Linked DNA regions of Homo sapiens. The protein of the gene in region 3 purifies or fractionates together with the protein of the main gene of each other region. This does not show direct contact. Each region holds a gene or a part of one and is shown on either strand. Other genes may lie near its edges.

Region 1 (4,145 bases), on a different chromosome or scaffold from region 3:
CACCACCAATCTCATTTCTTCAGCTGAGCTCCTGCCGCTTGGCCTCCGTGACGGTTTTCTCCCCTCCGCCTCTCTCTCTCTCTCCCACTTCTTGCTGTTTCCACACATCCTTGCTTTTCCCCACCTCCGTTCCAAGGCTCATCAGGGATCCAACCTTCCTGCCTCCTCTTTGTGAGCACGTTCTGTTCTCCCTGTCCTCCCCACCTCGCTGTCTCCCAGCATGACGCAGAGGGACAACAGCACAGACTCGTCCATCTCCTCTGGCTAGCCCTGCTTGCTCTGACAGCCACCACCAGCATCGGGCACCCAGACGAGCTGGTGCCCCCGAGCAGGAGTTACTGTTACGTCTCTCCATGGTCTTCCCCACCCAGCCTCTAGAGAGGCCTAGCTCGGTGCCATCAGGCTTCTTCATACAGCTCTCAAAGCTTCTTTTAAGAGGAACAAGGTAAAAAAATGGATACATTAATAAATGGCATTAAAACTGGCTCATTATCTGGGAGGAAAATACTCCATTCCTACCTCCCACTGAAAAAAATTCAAATGGATTAAAGGTTTCAATGTAAACAAAACAGTTCTTGAAGAAAACTAAGGATTTACAAGTAAGGATAGGGAAGAACGTTCTAGGCGTAAAAACTGAAGTCAGATAAGGCAAAGGAAAATGACAGATCTGACTATGTAAATACTATTATCTCGGTATCTACATAAAACTACTATGTAGAAAATTTAAAATTTTTAAAAACCTCTCATCATCATAAACTGCAAAAATATTTACAACATATGACAATAGTTTATATTGCTAATTGATAAACTCATTTATAAACATATAATTTATGAACTAATTTATAATGCTAATTTATAATGAAATTTATATTAACAGCTGGGCATGGTGGTTCACACCTATAATCCCAGCACTTTGGGAGGCCGAGGCGGGCAGATCAGCTGAGGTCAGGAGTTCAAGACCAGCCTGGCCAACATAGTGAAACCACGTCTCTACTAAAAATACAAAACTTAGCTGGGCGTGGTGGCACGCACCTATAATCCGAGCTACTCGGGAGGTTGAGGCAGGAGAATGGCTTGAGCCTGGGAGGTGGAGGTTGCAGTGAGCCGAGATCGCGCCACTGAACCTCCAGCCTGGGAGACAGAGCAAGACTCTGTCTCAAAAAAAAAAAAAAAAAAAAGAAAGAAGTTTATATTAACATTAAAATGTAATTATATTATTTAATTTATACTAAAATTAAAACTAATTTATATTGCTAATTTATAATGACCCAATGAAAAATGGTCAAGAGGTACAAATATACAATCCAAAGAGAAGAAACACAACTGGCAATAAACATGAAAAGATGAACTTCATTCTTTACTACAGAAAGGCAAAATCCGCACCCCCCTCCACACACACACATGCATTTTTTAACCAATTTGATTTGTGTGATTTTGGTTTTGGTGAGGATGTGATAAAATGGCTACATAAAAACACAGTTTGTGGCAGTGTAATTGTTACATCTTTCTGGAAGGCAAGTTCTCAATATTTATCAGCATTTACCCTTCAGGAGTTCTTGCATGGGTAGATAAGGATGATACACAGGGATATTCACCACAGCATTTACCCTTCAGGAGTACTTGCATGGGTAGATAAGGATGACACACAGGGATATTCACCGGAAGGCAAGTTCTCAGTATTTATCAGCATTTACCCTTCCAGAGTACTTGCATGGGTAGATAAGGATGATACACAGGGATATTCACTACAGCATTTACCCTTCAGGAGTACTTGCATGGGTAGATAAGGATGACACACAGGGATATTCACCGGAAGGCAAGTTCTCAGTATTTATCAGCATTTACCCTTCCAGAGTACTTGCATGGGTAGATAAGGATGATACACAGGGATATTCACTACAGCATTTACCCTTCAGGAGTACTTGCATGAGTAGATAAGGATGATACACAGGGATATTCACTACAGCACGGGATCTCATTCTGTTACCCAGGCTGGAATGCAGTGGCATGATCATAGTTCACTATAACCTCAAATTCCTGGGCTCAAGCAATCCTCCTTCCTCAGCCTCTCAAATAGCTGCAACTACACAGACCATGCCTGGCTATCTTTTTATTTTTTGTAGAGACGAGGTCTGACTATACTGCCCAGGCTGGTCTCAAATGCCTAGCTTCAGGCAATCTTCCTGCCTTGGCCTCCCAGAGTGCTGGGATAACAGGTGTGAGCCACGGTGCCTGGCCCAGCATTACTTTTAATGTAAAAATTATATACTATTTATTATCATTGTCCATCAGTAAGAAATTGCTTACATAAATTTTGTATTAAATCCACAAAATCTATGTTAAAGCTCTTGTGGCTGAATATGTTTCAGAATTTTTGAGATTTTAGAAAAGATCATATGGTTTACATCCCACGTTATGTCACACCTAAAGGGGATCTGGAGTGGTACTCCACAGTCAAACACATTAACATTTCGTCCACAAAGCACATGAGATAGAGTCTGTGCGTGACACCAGCTCATTCAGTTCATGATGGCACCAGCCTTACAGACATGGGTTTCTCAGTTGGGACCTCATATCCGTGTAAGGGAAACTGTTGGCATTAACAACGCAGCACATCTCCATGGACTCACATTGTTACGTGAAAACAGCAGGCTGCAGAATAGAATGTACAGTGCTGTCCAACTTTTAGTTTAAAATTACCATCTGTACGTATGCATTTGTACAAAAAAAAGAAAGCTGAGAGGACACAGAATAAAATGCTAACAGTTGGTGGGATTAAAAAGTTGATCCTTTGCTTTATATCTTTATATAATGTACGAATCTTTTCAAAGACACACATGATACACTTATAATCAGGAAAAAGGCCATTTTCATTTCACTTCAACAATAAAGATGGCTGGTGGCCCAAGTGTCCACACCTGGTGGCCAGCACGGTCAGCTGGTCTCAGCCCACACTGTGCTGACCACCATGGCCCCTCTGACTGCTCCTCCTGTGTCTGTCCCTCCATCCTAGGCCTAGCATGGCATTCTCATGTCTGTCCACACCCTGGGCTCTCCTGTCTGCTCACTCCAGCACCCCAGCTCCTGCCTCTGGGCCTTCCTGGACTCCAGACTCATGTCCACCTGCTCAACACCTCCAGTCCGCAGCACATCCTCAAATCCGTGGAAACAAGGCTGAGTTCCTGAGCTCCCCCAAACCCACCTACCAGGCTTCTCCATCTCAGGAAGCGGCGGCTCCGTCTTTCCAGCTGCTCCAGCCACAGCCCTGGGGTCCTTGGGAATCCACGGCCTCCCATGCACTGTGCCAGCGTACCCACTCTGCGTTCACACACACCCAGACTCCAGCACCCCTCAGCCTCTGCTGGCTTTACCTGGCCCCCAGCCAGTGCCAGCCGGTGATTACCTACAAGGGCCCTGCTGGGTCTGCTGCTCCCAGTCTTGCCCCCATGGTGGGCTCACAGCCCAGCACCCAACGGAGTCCTCTCAACTTCAGACTCTGGCCTGGAACCCAAGCTGAACCCATTCACCTTCTGAGGTGGCGCCAGCCTCCCATGAGATGACACTTGTGCCCCACCTTCTTCTCTGCTCCAGCCCCGTGGCCATCAATGCTGACTTCGCCCCACCCTCCTTGCTGCTTGTCACCTGTGCAGTGTCCCCTGCCAGACCCTCCTCACCTCGGTAAACTCTTAGATCCAACTCCACCTGCCTGACTTGACACTGCAGCTGGTTCCCAACCCTTCTAGCCTTTCTATCCTACTTGTTATCTTTCTCATAACATCAATCATCTCCTAACAAACTATATAACTTCTTACACTGACATCTGACCGTGTATGTCCAAAGCACTGGAGCAGGGCCCAGCACACAATGAATGCCTGAACAAACACATGCTCTGGGCCCCTGTGGCTGCCCTGGGCCCCTCTGAGCACAGGTCTTTCTGGCCCTTCTGTCCTCGGTGCCTACATCCAGTCACGCACACACTGACTTCATGGTCTCATTTCTTGCTCTCATCACAGCTTTTAGGAATTTCCTGAGCTGCAGACGCAGACGCAGAACAGCTGCTTGAACACATCCAGGGCATGTTTCCCGACACCTCAGACACACACAGAACCGAGCTGGGCATCCTCCCTCCCAAATCACGCCTCACC
Region 2 (4,145 bases), on a different chromosome or scaffold from region 3:
AAATTGACAGGAGAGGTGGAAAGTAGGTGGGCATTTAAAAATCACCTGAGGTCAGGAGTTCAAGACCAGCCTGGCCAACATGGTGAAACCCCGTCTCTACTAAAAATACAAAAATTTGCCAGACATGGTGGTGCATGCCTATAATCCCAGCCACTTGGGAAGCTGAAAGAAGAGAACAGCTTGAACCAGGGAGGTGGAGGTTGCAGTGAGCCAAGATCACACCACTGCACTCCAGCCTAAGCGACAGAGCAAGACTCCATCTCAAAAAAACAAAAACAAAAACAGAAAATGAAAGAGCATCTAAAAACACCAATGAGGAATAAATCTCACAAATGTTAAACAAAATTATACCCAAAAAACTATAAAAAGAAATTGAGAGAAAGTAAAGAAAGCGTAATAAATGTCAGGATATATACCACATTCATGGACTGGAAAACTTAATACTAAAAAGATATACTTCAAAGAGTTGGGTTAATAGTCCAATGCTGGCTGTTCTTCCAGCAGGTACACAGTAGCTCCTATCAGACCAGTTTTCTTGTGGTTAACTATGAACTCTGGACAAAATAAAAGGCACAACTACTTAAAGCACTGAAGAATGACCAAAACAAAGCAGACAAAATCTGAAGAGAAGAACACAGACATGTGGAAGCAGGGAACAGCCCTGGGTGAACTTCCTGGTGCTATTTACAGCTGCTACCCTGAAGCAAGGTCCCAGTTGCTGTGATAAGTAGTGGTGAAAATGACCCATAATCACACTGGCTTGAAGAACCAGAGCTGGAAACCAAGGGGGGAAATCCTGAAATGGAGAAAGCAAAGAGGGAGAGCCCTAAATTCTGCATATAAAATCTTTCTAAATCTCTGGCTGATCACTGAGTTAAATAGAAGTGGGGCAGAACAACCAGATAGAACAGAGCAGCTAAAGTTGCTGCCCACGTTTCAAAGAAGATAAGAGTTTGGTGTTTGGGTGCGGCCAAGTTAACCATCAGTTAAAACAAAATATTCAACACTTTTTGGAAGACTGTAATAGCATCTTGAATCTCTACAATATATAATCCACTGTACAATCTTAAATTAGTAGATACTCAAAGAAACAGAAGTGTGATCCAAACTGCAAAGAAAAGGCAATCAAATGAACACAGATCCTGCCATGACCCAGATGTTATAATTTTTTTCTTGTTGTTTGCTTGGATATGAGTTTATTTACATCAGGGGCCTTTTAAAGGCCTAATAGTCTCATTCTGTGGCACACAGATGTGATAATTATCAGACTTTAAAGCAGCTATAGAAACTAACTAAGCTCAACACTGTAAAGAAAAATATGCTTTTAATGAACAAATAGAAAATATCATAGAGTAATAAAAACTATAAAAAAGAAGCAAAGGGGTATTTCAGAACTGAAAATTTTAATATCTCAATTTTTTAAAATTTCACTGGGTTGGCTTACGGGAAATTGAAGAAGACAGAAGAAACAGTGAATAAGTCTGAAAGATCAACAGAAATTATCTAATCTGTAGAAGAGAAGGAAAAAGTATTGGAAAGACAAAAACAGAAAAACAGAGCCTGGTGACCTTGGAAAAATATTTAAAAATATAATATACATATACTGGAGCTCCATAAGAAAAAGGAACAGAAAAATATTTAACAAAATAGTGTCAAAAAACTTCCCAAACACAGTGAAAGATTTAAATTTACAGTTTCAAGAAGTACCAAGGAAGGCAAAGACAAAGGAAACCACATCTAGGCATATCAGAGTCAAAATACTAAGAACTAAAGATTATGAAAACACTTGAAAGAAGGAGAGAAAAAACAACAAATTATATCCGAGGGAACAATACAAATTACTACTCACTTCTCATCAGGGAAGAAAAAAAAAAAGGCTAGATAACAACTACTAGTGGAAAAAAAGGAAAACTATCAATCCAAAATTCTATTCCAGCAAAAATATCTTTCAAGAATGAAAACAATGTAAAGATATATTCATAAAGAAAAACTAACAGAATTCCTAGCTAACAGATCCTCAGAACAAAAATTCTAAATGAGATCCTTTGGTCTGAAGGATATACCAGATAGAAGGAGGATCTTCAGGAAGGAAAGAAAAACACCAGAAATGATAAATATTTGGGTAAACATAAAGATTTTTTTCTTCTTAATTTCCTTAAAATACATATGACTATTTAAATCAAGTATTCCTGTTTTGTGGGATTTATAACATATATACATGGAATACAAATGACAACTATAGCATAAAGAATGAGGGCAGGGGCAGTGGGGTAGAAAAATGGACCTATATCATTATAAGGTTCTTAAATTTCACATGAAATGATATAATATGAACTCTTAAGTAGCCTGTGAAAAGTTAAGGATGCATATGATAATTCCCAGGGCAACAACTGGAAAAAAAAAAAAAGCTAAGATGTATAACTAAAAAGCCAATAGATAAATTAAAACAGAACTCTAAAAAATATTCAATTAATCCAAAATAATACAGAAAAGATGAACAAAGGGAAAAAAAAGTAAAATGTCTCTATCCCTAAATTCAATCATATCAATAAGTGCATTAAATATAAATGGACTAACCACTTCAATTAAAAGACACAGATTGTCAGAATAAAGAAAAAATTAAGATACAATTATATGCTGTTGACAAAAGAGATCCACTTAAAATATAAAAACACATATAGCTTGAGAACAAAGAACTGGAAAAACCACGTACCAGCAAACATTAGGCATAAGAAGGCTGGAGTGGCTATAGTGATAGCAGAGATAAAGCAGAATTCAAGACAAGAGGTATTACAAGAAAAAAAAGAGATATTTCATAATGATAAAAGGGTCAACTCATCAAGAAGACTTAATGATACTAAATGTATATGATTTTTTTTTTTGAGATGGAGTCTTGCTCTGTCTTGCCCAGGTTGGAGTGCAGTGGCGCAATCTTGGCTCACTGCAGCGTCCACCTCCTGGGTTCAAGCAATTCTCCTGTCTCAGCTTCCTGAGTAGCTGGGACTATATAGGTGTGCACCACTACACCCAGCCAATTTTGTATTTTTAGTAGAGATGGGGTTTCACCATGTTGGCCAGGCTGGTCTTGAACTCCTGACCTCAGGTGATCCACTTACTCAGACCTCCCAAAGTGCTGGGATTACAGGCATGGGCCACTGCACCTGGTCATGTATACGCATTTAATACTAAAAAGATGGCAACTCTTCCCACAGTGTTCTCTATATATTCAATGAAATACTAATAAAAATTACTATAGGTTGGCTGGGCACGGTGGCTCATGCCTGTAATCCCAGCACTTTAGGAGGCTGAGGCGGGTGGATCATGAGGTCAGGAGATTGAGACCATCCTGGCTAACACGGTGAAACCAAGTCTCTACTAAAAATACAAAAAATTAGCTGGGCATGGTGGTGGGCACCTGTAGTCCCAGCTACTCGGGAGGCTGAGGCAGGAGAATGGTGTGAACCCAGGAGGCAGAGCTAGCAGTGAGCCAAGATTGTGCCACTATACTCCAGCCTGGGTGACAGAGCGAGATTCTGTCAAAAAAAAAATTACTATAGCTTGTTCCTTTGCAGAAATTGACAGGCTGAGTCTAAAACTTATATAAAAATGCAAATGGCCAAGAATAACCACCTGTGCCAATCAGTCAAAACCCTAATACATGTGTGATATAATGAGAGGGACTAGGGAACTTCATAGCAAATTTTTTTTCCACACATTGTTGCTGGCTTAGAGATAACAAATTCTTATGCCACACTTCCTACTTACCTTTCTATACTTTGCTAGTAAAGTTCCATCAGGCCCAAACACAGCACAGGTGTTATATAATTTCCCAGCATCCTCTTCAGGGATAGAGCCTTTCATTGAGAGAAGAAACATACCATAAGAAAAAGAATAGAGCAATTCTTTTGTGAGAAAGGGATAAAAGCCTGATAACTTGGGTCCAAAAATAAAGAACCTATCTTTTACGGTTTATTTATTCATTTTGTTTTTAGAATAAGGCAACACCTCATTCTATAATACAGAATAAGTATTCCCTTCTATGGGTTACTTAATCATGGTTTTTTTTTTCCTTCTTGAATATGATCTTTCAGAGATAAACTCCAGAGTGTAGATGGGATATGATTAGGTTAGATGCCAAAGACAGG
Region 3 (4,145 bases):
ATGTTCCCCTTGTACACCGAGATACGGACAATAGCATCTTTCTGTTCTGCCCTCAATATAATTGACGATTAACAGCTTCTCTCATTACTGTACACTTAATAAAAACCTTGTCATGGGGGAATCCACAGTGCCCTAATTTACCGTCTCTCCTCTTTCCTTCTCACATGAAATATTTGGAGTAGAGAAATAAAAACAAGACACCACCCTAAAATTACCTAGCAACTTTGTCTTCTCTCCCCAACCCAAAGCAAGAAAATAGGTGAGTGAGGACATTCAGAGGGAGATGATACGACCTCCTCATCTGGCCCCTTGACAATTGGAGTTCCAGAGGGAGAAACTTGCCTAAGATCACACAGCAAGTTCTTGCCGTCAGAATCCCGATTTTCTTCCCTGTACGACACTGACTAAATTCTGTGCTTTTGGGGAGAGCCTCCAACAGCACACACAAAGTACCAGGGCAGAGTGAAGGCTGGGCTCCAGGAAGCTTTCCCCAGGTGGGTGGTAAGGAGCCACGGGGATTGGAACAGACTGTTGATCTCATGGCTTTGACCTTCTACGGGGATGAGGCCCCCATTCTGGGAAAAAGGTCCAGCCTCCGTGGAATGCTGTCAGCTACCATTCCACATTCAGAATAGTGCATTCCAGGTTTTCATCACTAACCACCTCCTTCAGTTCATTTTTGCTCAACTCTGCTTGACTCGCCCCACCCCACAGGATGCCATTTCACAGTGACTTCAGGCCAGTCCTTATCTTTCCAATAGGGAAGGCAATACACTTTCATCACGTATGCCAATCCTGATCATTTGGTAGTGCCTGCAAGCAGCCCTGAGATACCTCTGGAGTCAACAGGATAATGCCAGCATTGACTGGTGATGCCTGCCACAGGCATGGCAAGGGCATGCCTGTGGCAGGCCCTTATTATGATAAGACAGGTGCAATACTGGAACCCACCCCACCCCCCGCCACACTGACAGCTCCCAGAGGATGGGGGCTGCTTCTGTCCCCATTCCACATGCCCGGGGGACTGATGGCTATTTATGGAGCACTTCCAGTGTACCAGTTCCTGCCACCATACATGAGTTTGAACCCAGATCTGTCCAACTCCAGTCTAAGCTGTTAGCCCTCCACTCCATGCCACTCTGGGCCCAGATGGCAGTCCTGGTCCTGCCACTAAAGTGCCTGGGACTTGAAGCAAGCCCTCTATCCCACCCCTCCCCAGCCCTGGCTTCCGCATCTGTAAATGGGGTGCTGGTCTGTGGCTCCTCAAGGTCCCTCCCAGCTCTCCCTGGAGGGTGCACACCGCGCTGGCTCCCAAGGGCAGGCTGCGACAAAGGGGCATCTAATCACATGTTAATATAGGTAAGAGACAAAGGTAAGCCCGGATAAAAAGGAGCAGCTAATTAGTAACATTGTTCTCAAGGCCTCCCCAGAGCTTCAATTAGGTTGTTTCTCCTGAATAACAGCAAGCAAGGAGCTAAAGCCACAAGAAAGAGGCGAGCCTGCCTCCCCTTCCGCGCTCCCATGTCTTTCGAGGCAAGCCCGTCCCCGCCCCGGTCCATGCTGCCATGCCTTTCCAGGGAAACGCAGACAGGTCAGAGCCAGAGTGATGCAACTCCCAGCGCCTACCGCATTACACTTGGGGAAACTGAGGCCTAGCGATAGATGACAAGTCCAAGGTTGTTGGGCAAGGCAGGGCAAACCTGAGACCAGAAGCAGGCATCCTGCCCTCCGGACCACCACCCTTTTCTTCTGGCCCACATGGGGTGATCGGCTCTCTTTGGATTTTAGAATCTTAGTAAAAATAGCCTGAGAGACATGGGGCCGTGACTATACCGTGGCCAGGTGATATTTGGTTGTGGTATCTTTTCAAATCAACCCTAAGCAAAGAGACCTGAACATTTACCGAAACAGGAAGCCCTGACCCCACCACCAGTATAAAAATTCAGGTGCCCAATTCAGGGGCTGCAACTGCTGAAACCTTGCTCTTTCCCTCTTAGGACCCCCAAGAAAGAACACAGCATGGCTTTATCACACACTGGCAGACCCTCAGGGAGCTGAGATCCCCTTGGTGTATGAATGGGGAAACTGAGTCCTGGAGAGGAGGGTTGTGGTCAAGATGAAATGCTGATTGGCTGACAAAGGGAATCATGGGCTTTGGCTACTAAGAGAAGACAGAGGCACCTGCTTGGGGACCAACTGCCCTGCTCCTGGGCCCAGCCACAGGCGGATACGAGGCTAGGCAGGCTAGAGGCCAGCCGAGGTGGCAGGCATGTCACACTGAAGCTCAGCCTCAACTGCGGCACAGCCCCAACTGTGGCACAGCCCCATCCCTGGAGAAAAGGGCCAGTGAGCCGTGCCTGATGCTGGGACAGGTCCTTAGGCCCTGGCCGGCTCCCAGTGCCTGTGCAGCCACAGCGCCCACCCCTGGCAGGATTTTCGCCCTGCCTGGCCGGCGGCCTCCATGCGGCCTTAATGACCACGAAATCGGGCCTGCACGGTCTGCCTCCACACCCGGCCTGCCCACCCCAGACACAAGACAGCCTGACCTCCAGGCCTGGCCCTGGCCTCCCTGCTCCTCGGAGACTCCCCAGGCCCTCCTGGGCCTCTCCCAGCCCTTGGACAGCTCTTCTCATAACACCCTGAAAGTCAGGGGCAAAGGGCCCACGATCCCCACTTGGCAGGAGGGAAACTGCGGTCTCACGGGGTGTGGTGAAAGGACGTGCCCAAGGTCGCCCACGGAGCATGGGGGTAGTAGCGTCCAAAGGGGACAGGGTCTCAGGGATCTCTGGGTTTGCTGGGTCCCGAGGCAGGCCCTGAGGGAGGCTGAGCAGACTCACCTCGGGACTTCATTCCAATGAAGCGGTTCTCCACGATGTCAATACGGCCCACGCCATGCTTGCCCCTGTGGGAAGAACTGGTCCATTAGGTTCGGGCGCTACCGCAAGGCTCAGAGTCACCCACCCAGCTGGGCTGTCCCAGGGTGGGCACAGCTTAGGCCACACATTAGGCAGCATTTCAGGATCTAAGACTCAAGAGGACATCTGAGCCGGGTCACCTAGTCCAGGTGCCCACTGGACAGGTGGGGAAACTGAGGCCCAGAGAGAGCAGGGATTGCCCAGGTGTGAGTTCACATTGTTCCTTCCGTTCCCTGTGTCCTGGGGCCCTGCCTAGCGCCACAGCTAACTACTGCTCCCTTTCCTTCTATCCTGGCCTCCCATCCAGCCAAGGGCCTGAGAGCCCCGGCCTAATGATCCCTTGGAGGCAGGAGACCTCCTGGGGTTGTTATCTTCCAAGGCTAAGGACCACGGAGCCTCTCCTGCCAAATGGGTCCCCCTGGTCCGGGAAACTCTGTGGCTATGGGGAAGGGACATGGCCTGTGCTCCGCACCCCTGAGCCTCAGCCACAACCATTAGCTGCAACGGTCCAGGCTCGTGCTCGCCCGAGACGGCGGTTCCCAAGAGGCCGGACAGGGCTGCAGACACTCACGCGACTTCGTTCAGGTACATGAAGAGCTCCAAGGAGGTCTGGTGGGTGGTGCCATCCTTGACGTTGGTCACCTTCACAGGGACCCCTAGGGTGGGAAGAGAGGGCAGTGGGCCTCTGGGCCCGGCTCAGCGGAGGAGTCTGCACCCGCCACCCCACCCTCTCCCTCCTCCCGAAACGCCTTAAATGGATGTGACAGATATGGACTCCAAATGACTCCTTCAAAAGCCCTGTGCAGGTTGAGGCCTGCTGCAGGGAGAGAAGGGGCGAGAAAGCCCCCCAGAATGAAAGAGAAAATGCAATAAAAACGCTCTCCCCCACCCTCCCATTCTCTTTGCCCCTTTTGCATTTAGGGGCTGTGAAATTGGAACCAGGCCCTGAACTAATTGAATTTCACGCTCCACCATTGTCTTACGCCGGGAGCACCTTCTGTCCCACCAGTCACCCGGGGGCCGCCTGGCCGAGGTGTGGCTGGGCTCAAGCACACACATACTCGCTCACACACACACACACACACACACAGCCCCCTGCCACGTCTGTCAGGCGGACCCCGCGCCCCGACCCTGTACCCCAGACCCACACGCAGCCATCTGATTGATGGGGGTGACACGGTGCCCGCTCCAGCAGGCGAGGTGTCGGCAGCGTCCCTGAATCCGAGGAGC
Region 4 (4,145 bases), on a different chromosome or scaffold from region 3:
ACCTGGGCCCTCCCTTCCAGAACAAGGGCCACCGGCCTTGTTAGGAGTCAGGTCAGCAAGGGACATGGTGAAAGGCTCCTGTGCAAAGTCAGATGTGCTGGGCAGGCTAAATGGGGTTATTCCAAACAAAGCCCTATAGTTCCAGTGAGAGAGCCCCCAGCCCCGGTGGCCACGGCTCCTCCCCTCCGGCTGCAGCACATACCCGCAGCAGAGCACACAGCTGTAGGGCACTCACCAGCAGGCACATCGGGCACAGCGCACACCTGCCACAGTGCGAGCCCGACTGTCCTCCCTGCTCCCTCCACAGAACCCCTCCCTGTTCTCCAGGCTTCTCGGGGGTGGGGTGGGCTGGGCTGGCTCCTTCACTTGGGGAGCTTCGTATGCCAACAACCGTGGGTGCCCACGTGGGATGAAATGACTGAATGGCACCCCTTGTGCGACCTTCAGGTGGCCATCCAGCTGAACGACACCCACCCCGCCCTCTCCATCCCTGAGCTCATGCGGATCCTGGTGGACGTGGAGAAGGTGGACTGGGACAAGGTGAGCATGGAGGAAAAGGGCGGCACCTCCCCAGAGCCTGGAGCCCGTGCAGACCAGGGCTACAAGGAGCTGAGCTGGGGGGCCTCTTCCCTGGCCTTGGGAGAGCTGTGTGGTCATCATGCCCAGGAGAGACGCGAGCTGTGGGAGGGGTCTGGTTCCAGGAGACGGAGGTTCCGGGGGCCAGAGTATGGGGTCAGGGCGCGGGGGAGATGATAAGGATAGGGCTGTGACACTTCTCAGGGTTTCCCGTTGGTGCATTCTCATCTTGAAATTTGGTGACAGCTCCCCAAAGCGTTAAGTGTTTAGAGGTCTGTGCTCTATTCATGCACCTGCCCTCGCGATTCAGTGTATTTTGGACTTAAATATGTTTGTGTGGTAGGATTTTCTTAATCTAACCGTTACCAAATCAACATGTGGAACCATAAAACAGGCCAATGTGGTGACTCACACCCGTAATCCTAGTGCTTCGGGAAGCCAAGGCAGGAGGGTTGCTTGAGGCCGGAAGTTAGAGACCAGCCTGGGCAATACAGCAAGACCCCACCTCTAAAAAAAAAGCCAGGTGTGGCAGCACACACCCAGAAAAATAAAACCAAAAGAAACCATAAAACGATTTTTTTTAACTCCGTTTTGTAGAAACCCAAGCCCCTCTCTGGTCTTGGGGTGTGTGCACTCCAGGTGAGGCTGTACCTGTTGTGGGTACCCCAGTTCTGGCCAGCATAGGGCAGGTCTGTGTAGTAACCAGTGTCCTCCCCACCATGTCTGGCCACTTTAGTGGAAATAAATAGAAAACTGCTCAATGGTCTGTCCGTTTACCAGTGACGGCAGAGTGTGAAGGTGACTCCAGGTAGCAGGCGATTGTGTCTTATTTGTGTGTGTGTCACGCACTGGACCATAATGTCACACTTCAGTGGGTTGCGTCAGCAGAGTGAGGGCTCTGGGCTGCGTGTCAGGCTTTCAGAGGGCTCCAGATCCACCTTGGAGAGCAGAGGGGACGGTGGCCCTTCCTGGGGTACCCAGCATCTGCCTGGGATCCTGGACGCTCACCCTGCCTAGGCAACTGGCCAGAGAGCTGCTTGTTTCTAAACAAACACATGGGAACATTCTCTAATGGCCTAGGCCTGGGAAATCACGAAGAAGACCTGTGCATACACCAACCACACTGTGCTGCCTGAGGCCTTGGAGCGCTGGCCCGTGTCCATGTTTGAGAAGCTGCTGCCGCGGCACCTGGAGATAATCTATGCCATCAACCAGCGGCACCTGGACGTGAGTGTGGGCCCAGCTGGCCGTGTAGGGTGGCGGCTACACCCATGCCAACGGCCCCCCACCTGGCCTGGGAGAGGAGGTGCTTTGCTCCTTGAACGAGGCACCCTCTGTTCAGCAGAGGATGCTTGGGGCTGGGGGCTGTCCCTTGGCAGAGCTATTGGCTGATCCCCACGCCTGGCCCACAGCCTCAGGTTCCTCTTTGTAAATTAAATTGCACGTCCTCTCCCTCAGACCCATCTTCCTCAGACAGCAGCCCTGTGGGTCCCTGGGCCGGGCTGGGCCCTTTCCTGGGCTGGGGAGTTGGGTGAGCGAGAGCCTCCTCCTCAAGCTGGGCCTGGGCTCTTGTGAGATGCCTTGGAGGTGCCTGCTGGGTCTGGGAGCACTTGAGGGAGGTCTGGCTGTCACAGCCCCAGAACTTCCCTGGAGGCAGCAGAGCTTCCCATGGGTGGTCATGGAGTGTCCCCTGGTCATGGGGAGTGCTGGGTCTCCGTGGGGCCTCCTGTGCCCACCCACCTGCCTCTGTGTTTTGGCACCAGCACGTGGCCGCGCTGTTTCCCGGCGATGTGGACCGCCTGCGCAGGATGTCTGTGATCGAGGAGGGGGACTGCAAGCGGATCAACATGGCCCACCTGTGTGTGATTGGGTCCCATGCTGTCAATGGTGTGGCGAGGATCCACTCGGAGATCGTGAAACAGTCGGTGTGAGTGGGGCGCTTGCCCGAGCGGGGCCAGCTCTGTCTGACACCCAGGCCTGCGTCTAGGACCATCCACCAAACACATGGACCCAGCTATATAGCATACAACCTGTGCCACTAGGCCCCTGCCTCCATAGGAATGACAGAGCTGCCCAGAACACCCTGTCAGGGTCACGCCTTGTTGTGCGTTCACCGACCAGCACACGGGGGCCTCTGGAGGGCTCTGGCTCTGCGGGCAACGGGGAGACGGCTTTGTCTCCTGTTGCTCTCCTGCGCCCCTGCCTTCCTGGGGGTCCAGTCGGAGGCTCTGCACCACTGGTCCACCTGCCGCTGGCAGGGCTTGGACAGGGCTTGAAGGTGGGATTCTTAGGTCAGATCTTGTTCTTGCCCCTCTTAGGTGGGGCGTGATCTAGGAATTACTCCCACTCTTTCACGTAGCATGTGCTGAGCACCTACTGTGAGTACTGAGCAGGCAGCAGCCGGCGGGAGCGGAGGCTGTGCCCGGGGCTGGGCTGCAGGCTCTGTGCGTGGCGCCCGCAGCAAGCTTCGTGTCGGGCCCCTCCCCAGTAGCTATGAGGAAACCGAGCGCAGCTTCTCAAGCCCTGAAGTCCTGCGGTCTCGGCTGTCATGACTTGGACACCTGTTTCCGCACGGACCGCTCTGGAGAATGGCCAGGCTCTAATGCCTGCAAGGTTGTGGTTGGGCAAACCGCACAGCCAGCCACAGATGCCCCGGGGTGCAGGTGCTGCCTTCGTATGGCTCCCAGAGCCTGCAGCTGCCGCGGTCACTCTGTTCTCCTTAGAAAACAGAACAGAACCACTGAGCTTGAGGGCTCCTGGGACCTCCTTAAAAGGACTTTAAGGTCTGTTGCTCACCTGGTGCAGGGCACAGCATTTGTGACAGTTCCCTGTTCTCTGTGTTTGCAGCTTTAAGGATTTTTATGAACTGGAGCCAGAGAAGTTCCAGAATAAGACCAATGGCATCACCCCCCGCCGGTGGCTGCTGCTGTGCAACCCGGGGCTGGCCGATACCATCGTGGAGGTGAGTCCCGGGCCCCACCCGTGCCTGTGGAGATGCCTGGGCTGAGAACCGCGGGCCATGTCATCAGCCCCTGCTGAGCGGTTGCTGAGTAGGCAGGAGTCTGTCCCTCACGTGTTGACCTGCAGGCTTCTGGACATGAGGGCTGAGCCCCTGAACATGGGCGCTGAGCTGGGCAGTCACCCATTGGGCCTGGCGGGTCCTGTGTGCGAGTTCAGAAGCCGAGCTTTAGGGAGGGCTGGGGTGTGGCTGAGTGCAGCCACGGGGCCACTGCAAAAGAGTCAAGAGGCAGCTGACTGCCAGCTAGGCTGGGCACCTATTTCCTGTTTGTATGTTGGCTCCTATGCAAGCTCCCTGAGGAAATGAGTGCTGAGGTGTCAGGCCCTGCGCTACAGGCAAGGACCAGCCGCTGGGAGGGTGGGACCGCCCACCTGGGGCTATGGTCAGGGAAGCCTTCCCAGGAAAGCTGAGGTCTGAAGAGGGAATGAAGAGAGAGTGAGCAGTGCTCTGGGGCAAACTGGTTCAATGCCCTGTGCTGGGGGACGGGCCCCTGGGACCTGGAAAGCAGCGTGGCTCCTGTGCAGTCTGAGATGGGCCTGGGTACAGTGAG

What was found.
Region 1: the proteins of ASS1 (region 3) and SIRT3 purify together in Homo sapiens (affinity purification with mass spectrometry; 2 studies listed by BioGRID and IntAct, with this or other methods). This does not show direct contact.
Region 2: the proteins of ASS1 (region 3) and NIT2 fractionate together in Homo sapiens (co-fractionation; one large-scale study listed by BioGRID). This does not show direct contact.
Region 4: the proteins of ASS1 (region 3) and PYGB fractionate together in Homo sapiens (co-fractionation; one large-scale study listed by BioGRID). This does not show direct contact.

Annotation. Positions count from the first base shown.
Region 1 is NC_000011.10:219,173-223,317, forward strand, and holds part of SIRT3 (NAD-dependent protein deacetylase sirtuin-3, mitochondrial), read right to left. Parts: intron 429-4,145; exon of another isoform or gene 1-428.
Region 2 is NC_000003.12:100,340,782-100,344,926, reverse strand, and holds part of NIT2 (omega-amidase NIT2), read right to left. Parts: intron 3,855-4,145; coding exon 3,766-3,854; intron 1-3,765. UniProt on the Homo sapiens protein: Has omega-amidase activity. The role of omega-amidase is to remove potentially toxic intermediates by converting 2-oxoglutaramate and 2-oxosuccinamate to biologically useful 2-oxoglutarate and oxaloacetate, respectively.
Region 3 is NC_000009.12:130,479,142-130,483,286, reverse strand, and holds part of ASS1 (argininosuccinate synthase), read right to left. Parts: intron 3,572-4,145; coding exon 3,487-3,571; intron 2,903-3,486; coding exon 2,838-2,902; intron 1-2,837. UniProt on the Homo sapiens protein: One of the enzymes of the urea cycle, the metabolic pathway transforming neurotoxic amonia produced by protein catabolism into inocuous urea in the liver of ureotelic animals.
Region 4 is NC_000020.11:25,278,610-25,282,754, forward strand, and holds part of PYGB (glycogen phosphorylase, brain form), read left to right. Parts: intron 1-447; coding exon 448-540; intron 541-1,656; coding exon 1,657-1,803; intron 1,804-2,339; coding exon 2,340-2,503; intron 2,504-3,423; coding exon 3,424-3,538; intron 3,539-4,145. UniProt on the Homo sapiens protein: Glycogen phosphorylase that regulates glycogen mobilization. Phosphorylase is an important allosteric enzyme in carbohydrate metabolism. Enzymes from different sources differ in their regulatory mechanisms and in their natural substrates.